2 linked regions of the Homo sapiens genome follow. The protein of the gene in region 1 interacts with the protein of each later gene in a pairwise test. Each region holds a gene or a part of one and is shown on either strand. Other genes may lie near its edges.

Evidence for each region. Proteins that work in one complex are often made in the same cells at the same time.
Region 2: the proteins of ZNF76 (region 1) and KCTD9 interact in binary tests that used the Homo sapiens proteins (3 or more experiments, as listed by UniProt).

The regions. Positions count from the first base shown.
Region 1 is NC_000006.12:35,276,735-35,280,234, forward strand, and holds part of ZNF76 (zinc finger protein 76), read left to right. Parts: intron 1-3,500. UniProt on the Homo sapiens protein: May be involved in transcriptional regulation.
Region 2 is NC_000008.11:25,451,674-25,455,433, forward strand, and holds part of KCTD9 (BTB/POZ domain-containing protein KCTD9), read right to left. Parts: intron 1,903-3,760; exon of another isoform or gene 1,871-1,902; intron 1-1,870. UniProt on the Homo sapiens protein: Substrate-specific adapter of a BCR (BTB-CUL3-RBX1) E3 ubiquitin-protein ligase complex, which mediates the ubiquitination of target proteins, leading to their degradation by the proteasome.

The DNA of each region.
Region 1 (3,500 bases):
CAATCCCTTTTCAACCTATGTCTGCTTTGTTTTTATTTTTATTTATTTATTTATGGGTTTTTTTTTTTTTTTTTTTTTGAGACAAGAGTTTTGCTGTTGTTGCCCAGGCTAGAGTGCAGTGATGCAATTTTGGCTCACTGCAACCTCCGCCTCCTGGGTCCAAGCAATTCTCCTGCCTCAGCCTCCCAAGTAGCTAGGCATGTGCTACCACACCTGGCTAATTTTTGTATTTTTTTTTTTTTTTAGCAGAGGCGGGGTTTCACCATGTTGGTCAGGCTGGTCTCGAACTCCTGATCTCAAGTGATCCGCCCACTTCGGCCTCCCAAAGTGCTGGGATTACAGGCATGAGCCACCGTGCCCAGCCTGCTTTGTTTTTAGACCTGGTTTCTCTTATGTGTCTTCTGACACAGTGCAGTTACACTAAAGCGGGTTACCCAAAGAATCTACCTGATGAAGAGAGTGAAGCTTGAAGGTCAGAGCAGACCAAGAGAGGCCAGGAGCAGAGCTCTTGTGAGACAGGGACCACGTGGAGGTTATCAGGGCTCTGGGCAAGGATGCTAATAGACCAGAGATGTCAGATGTCAGAATCCCCACCTTGACCAGTGGTTCTTCACCATTAATCCCTATCAGACCCTGATGACAGCCTTGGATTTCCCTCTCTCCTGGAAAATGCAAAGGCTCACACACCAAAAAAGTATTTTGGAGTAGCTTCAAGTTTCATAAACCCCCAGCTTCACCTCTGTGCTTCGCAGCATAGTAATTAAGGTCACACTCTGGATTAAATGGCCTAGGGTGAAATCCTCCTTTACTAGTTAGCTGTGTAACCTTGAGCAAGTTACTTAACTTGGTCTTGGGCCTCCAGTTCCCTCACTTTTAAATGAGGATAATCATAGCATTTGATTGTAGGATTGTTAGAACTAAATGAGTTAATGTATGTGACATTCCTAGCACGTGGTTAACTCTATAGTAGTGTTCACTATATAATAGTATTGCTGCCCTTGCACCTTAGCCCATTTAGTAAATGTTTATGGACAGAATGAATGAATAATTCTAGTTGAGATGCCATGCCTGGGGTAGAGCATTCCAATCAGCGTGTCGCAGTTGGTCTATAGGTTTTTTTGGGTTTTTCGTTTGTTTGTTTTTGAGACGGAGTCTCACTCTGTCGCCCAGGCTGGAGTGCAGTGGTGCAGTCTTGGCTCACTGCAAGCTCCGCCTCCCAGGTTTATGCCATTCTTCTGCCTTAGCCTCCCGAGTAGCTGGAACTACAGGCGCCCTCCACGCCCGGCTAATTTTTTGTATTTTTAGTAGAGACAGGGTTTCACCCTGTTAGTCAGGATGGTCTGGATCTCCTGACCTTGTGATCTGCCCGCCTCAACTTCTCAAAGTGCTGGGATTACAGGTGTGAGCCACCACGCCCAGCCAGTTTTTGTTTTGTTTTTTTCTTTTTTTTTGAGACGGAGTTTCGCTGTTGTTGCCCAGGCTGGAGTGCAATGACACGATCTCGGCTCACCGCAACCTCTGCCTCCCAGGTTCAAGCAATTCTCCTGCCTCAGCCTCCCAAGTAGCTGGGATTACAGGCATGTGCCACCATGCCCAGCTAATTTTGTATTTTTAGTAGAGACGGGGCTTCTCCATGTTAGTCAGGCTGGTCTCGAACTCCTGGATGGTCTATAATTTTGCCAAGATATTGATCCGCTCGCCCCTCAGGGCTGTCAAAGCCCCAGTTGGTCGCTTCTGGCTTGAAGCAGTGACATCTGCAATGTGAACTTCTGACTTTAAGCAGCAGCATCTGCAATGCAATGTACAAATATCTGTCTCTCTAGGTCCCCTGACATGAAAACAGTTTGGGTAGCACCAGTCAAAGATATCGGTTGGTAAGTCGTGAGAATCCAGTAGGCAGTCCAGATTCCAAGTCCAGGAGAATTTTGAGAATGGATGTCAAAGAGAGTCTTCACGACTGCACTGAGTTTAGAGGCCGTGGGCTTCCTGCAGGCTTCACAAGTGTTGGGGTCCACTGCTAGAGCAGGCTGCACACCACAGTGGGTACAGAAGATATCCTGCCAGCAGGAAGCTTCAGTGCTTCCCACCTTGCACATGAGGGACCCAGGGAGTCACTCACAGGATGTGTGGAGAGCCCACAGTGTGAGTTGCTGGAGAAACCACTGTGACGCAGAAACCAGGCTAGAGCCCAAAGCCTTGTGTAGGCAACGGACATTAAACAGATAGTGATGAGTACTGAAGTAGGTTGAGCCCAGAGGTGTGAGTGCTAGGAAAAGGTGGTACCTAGGCTGTGGGAGTTTATAACAACCCAGCCTTGTATGCAAGGTGGACTCTAAGAGCTGTAGGAAACTATGGAAGGGTTTTAGTCAAGGAAGTGGTATGTTTAGATTTGTACTCTTTTTTTCTTATAAATCTACTTTTATTTATTTACTTTTCATTAGCTTAAGTCCTTGAGGGGCACAGCGTCACACAGATTCTGTGTTCAATAGCTTTAGCAAGATTGCTTGGGAATTTAGCACAAACCATGCCACTGTTTCCATGGGCCTGAGTTTACCTTTCCCCAGATTATGCTGGTTTTCTTCAGTTTGCTGCCAGCAGTCAGTGTGTTGTTCTTTGCTTTATACATGTAAGTACATCTCTTGCCTAAATAGAATTAGTTTCATTTCGAGCATAAATACCTTCAATTTTTTTTTTTTTTTTTTTTTTTTTTTGGGACGGAGTCTCGCTCTGTCGCCCAGGCTGGAGTGCAGTGGCGCGATCTTGGCTCATTGCAAGCTCCACCTCCCAGGTTCATGCCATTCTCCTGCCTCAGCCTCCCAAGTAGCTGGGACTACAGGTGCCCACCACCACGCCCGGCTAATTTTTTGTATTTTTAGTAGAGATGGGTTTTCACCATGTTAGCCAGGATGGTCTCAATCTCCTGACCTCGTGATCCACTGTCCTCGGCCTCCCAAAGTGCTGGGATTACAGTCGTGAGCCACCGCACTTGGCCAATACCTCAATTTTAATAAGAGCTGTGTCCTCGCTTTGGTTCTGGAGGCCCCACTTACAGCTAGCAAAAAATGGCCTTGGACTACAGCCTTCCAAATGTATTGTATTTATCTTATTATTATTTTTGAGACAGAGTCTCTTTATCACCCAGGCTGGAATTCAGTGGTATGATCAAAGCTTACTGCAGTTTCAAATTCCTGGGGTCAGGCAGTGCTCCCACCTCAGCCTCTTGTGTAGCTAGGATTGCAGGCATGTGCCACTACACCTGGCTAATTTTTTTTTTTTTGTAGAGACAATGTCTTGCTGTGTTGCCCACATTGGTCTTGAACTCCTAGCCTCAAATAATCCTCCTGCCTCAGCCTCCCAAAGCACTGGGATTACAGGCATGAGCCACTACACCCCGCCCATATTTGCCTTTTGGAAGTCCTGTTCTCAGCAGGCCTCTACAGGCTCCAAGATAGTGGGAAGAGAGCTTTTTTTTTAAATTCACCCTGACAGCATAAACATGA
Region 2 (3,760 bases), on another chromosome or scaffold:
AGTTGGAGAGTAAATGGAACACCATGCCTAGTACGATTGGCTAGTTTTAATTTACCTTTAAACACCATTTTCAAATTGTAACCTGTATTATTTAAATTTAAAAATTAAAACCTGCACATGCATGTAAAATATTTTTTTCTTTTATACCCACAAGATTTATTACATAATACACAATAAATACACAAGTATTTGTGTATTTGAATTCAACTTTTATTGCCACTTTAATCAATCCTAATAAAGTATCAAAAACAATTTACCATATCACTAAATATTTTCTAATCTGGCTGTCTGCCTGGATCCTAAAGGTCCAATAAAAAAATTAATTTGCAAAAAGTTGTTATGATAAATACACAAGTATTTATTGTGCATTATGTAATATACAATACACATAAATTGTTGAATTTATGCAGGCTGATTTACCCAACAAAACCACTAATCACCACTAGTAACTAAATACAGAACTCAATTTTCTCTACCTATACTTTTAGTCAAATACATTTTAAATATTTACATGATCTTATTCTTTAAAAGATGAGATAATTTAAAAAAAAGATGAGATAATTAACTCTAAGGTGAAAAAAGAAAATTTTAAAATGGAAAATACTGGTAATATCAAGTGTTGGAGTGGATGTGGACCAATAGGGAAGATTTATGCAATGGTGGTGGGAATATAAATTACTGCAATGACTTTGAAAAACAATCTGGCATTATTTTGCAAAACTGAATATTTACATATTCTAACACCCAATAATTACAACTATGTGTCTATACCTTAGAGTGGTGGTTCTCAAATGTGTGATCCTGTCACCTGCAGCATCTGAACCACATTTCACCTGCAAATTAAAAATGTACATTCCTACCCCACCCCAGACCTACTGAATATTAATCTTTGGGGATGAAGTCCAGCAGTTTTCTCAAGTCCTCCTCCTCCTCCAAGTGACTCTGATGCATGCTAAAGTTTGATTAACTACCTCCCTAGAAAAATGCTTGCTGCTGTGTGCCAGGATACATATACAGAAATATTCATGACAGCACTGTCAATTTAACAACAAAATATAAAGAAAATAAACAACCTAATGTCCACTGACAGGAATATCATGGTAGTATTTGTATAACATGTACTTTAATAAAGCAGTAAAAATGAATAAATTATCACTATGTCAGATATTATGGTTGGAAGAGAATTATATTGAACGAAAAAAGCAAGGACTGGCCTGGCATGATGGCTCATGCCTGTAGTCGCAGCACCTTGGGAGACTGAGGAAGGAGGACTGCTTGAGGCCAGGAGTTTGAGACCAGTCTGGGCAATATAGGAAGACATTGTCTCCACAAAAAACTATATACAGTATAATATCAATTTGAGATACCGTATGTCCCGAAGCTGATTTTTTAAAAATGTAACTTAGTGGCTAGGCAGAGTGGCTCACGCCTGTAATCCCAGTACTTTGGGCGGCTGAGGCGGGCAGATCAGGAGGTCAGCCGAGACCAGCCTGACCAACATGGTGAAACCCCATCTCTACTAAAAATACAAAAATTAGCTGGGAGTGGTGGCACGTGCCTGTAATTCCAGCTACTCAGGAGGCTGAGGCAGGAGAATCGCTTGAACCCAGGAGGCAGAGGTTGCAGTGAGCCAAGATCGCGCCACTGCACTCTAGCCTGGGTGACAGTGCGAGACTCTGTCTCAAAAAAAAAAAGGTGAGGGCCGGGCACGGTGGCTCAAGCCTGTAATTCCAGCACTTTGGGAGGCTGAGGCTGGCGGATCACGAAGTCAGGAGTTTGAGACCAGCCTGGCCAATATGGTGAAACCCTGTCTCTACTAAAAACACAAAAATAGCCAGGTATGGTGGCGGGCGCCTGTAATCCCACCTACTTGGGAGGCTGAGGCAGGAGAATTGCTTGAACCCGGGAGGCGGAGGTTGTATTGAGCCAGAGATCATGCCACTGCACTCCAACCTGGGCGACAGAGTGAGACTCCGACTCAAAAAAAAAAAAAAAAGGTAATTTAGTTATGCATATATATGTGACAAAACTATTTAAAAACACACGGCAAAGAGAAAAACAAAACAGGAGTACAGGAACGTGGATAAACACATTATGTTATTGATAACATGCTACTTCTTGGGTTATCTGGCAGATTTACAGATGTTTGCTATATTATGTTCCTCTTTTTATGTATATTCTTTATTGTATTCTTTTCTATGTATCAAATATATTAAGAAATGTTCAAGCTTAAAAAGTGGGCCCTCACTAGGTTCTTATTAATGTTTAGCCTTCAGAGGCAGAGGTTCAGATAAATTTTCACCTTTCTCCAACTCTAACAACGTAATGGATTCAAACCTGGATACTTACTACTAACAACATATTTCTTTTTCATTCTTTGTTGTTGTTGTTGTTTTAGAGATGGGATCTCACTATGTTGCCCAGGCTGGTCTTGAACTCCTGAACTCAAGCAATCCTCCCATCTCAGCCTCTCAAAGTGCTGGGATTACAGGCATGAGCCATTGTGCCTGCCCCCAACATGTTTCTGACCTAATACCAAAACCTGAAGAAAAGTTATTTCTTGGACCAAGAATGAAAACACGGTACAGAATGAAAGTATTTCCTACCCTGTTTGCCATGTTTGGCATGATGCCACATACTCAGAAGGCATTTACTAAGTGTTCACTGAATGAATGAATGAATGAATGATGAATTAATCAGTATACAAAAGGCCTAGGACTTGCACAGCTCATTATTGAATATTCTGAAGTAAAAAAAGCACTCTGTGTTCAAGACGTATAGAAACTCTGCACTGACATTAAGTTGCTCAGAAGCCACACACTGCATGCAGATGTGCAAGTCCCCATTTCAATTTCCTTAATGCCAACTCTTACAGGGAATATTAAAAAGAATAACGAAAATGTTGAGGCACATGGAAAAAGGATGACAGGTACAAACAACATAACTGACTCTTTCGGAGCAGTTTTAAAAAACAAAAACAAAAAAAACCCTCAAAATTTAAACCAAAGATTCCAGTGATTAGAACTAAGGCCTTCAAATGTTTCTGACCACACACCCCATTGGTAACATACTTTTGGGCATGTACTCAAACATCTGTATATTTATGTATTTATGAACTACATTCCACTGTTAGAAAGTACATGTTTTCCCAAATGATGAGGACTTTCAGTGACTCAGACTATGAATTAGCCACTAAGAATCTCCTAAATATTTATCATTAAATTTAGTGAAATTCTGCCAAATACAGGATTGACTTTAAACATTAAAATAAGCCGGGCATGGTGGCTCACGCCTGTAATCCTAGCACTTTGGGAAGCCAAGGCAGGTGGATCACATGAGGTCAAGAGTTCAGGATCAGCCTGGCCAACATGGTGAAAACCGTCTCTACTAAAAATACAAAAATTAGCAGGGCATGGTGGCAAGCCCCTGTAATCCCAGCTAAGCAAGAGGCTGAGTTAGGAGAATCGCTTGAACCTGGGGGGCAGAGGTTGCAGTGAGCTGAGATCACGCCACTTCACTCCAGCCTGGGTGGAAGAGCAAAACTCCGTCTCAAAAAATAATAATAATAAATAATAAATAAATAAATAAAAGTAAAAAACAAACAAAAACCAAAAAATCAGAAAAGAAAAAAATCTGAAGCCATTTGTCTTCATGCACTAGAACTTATTTCTAAATATCTTGCTAACTAGGATGACTCATCCTATCAATGGCTAATATTTCAAAGAATAACATACACTTAGGGAGAGGCTGATTATTAATA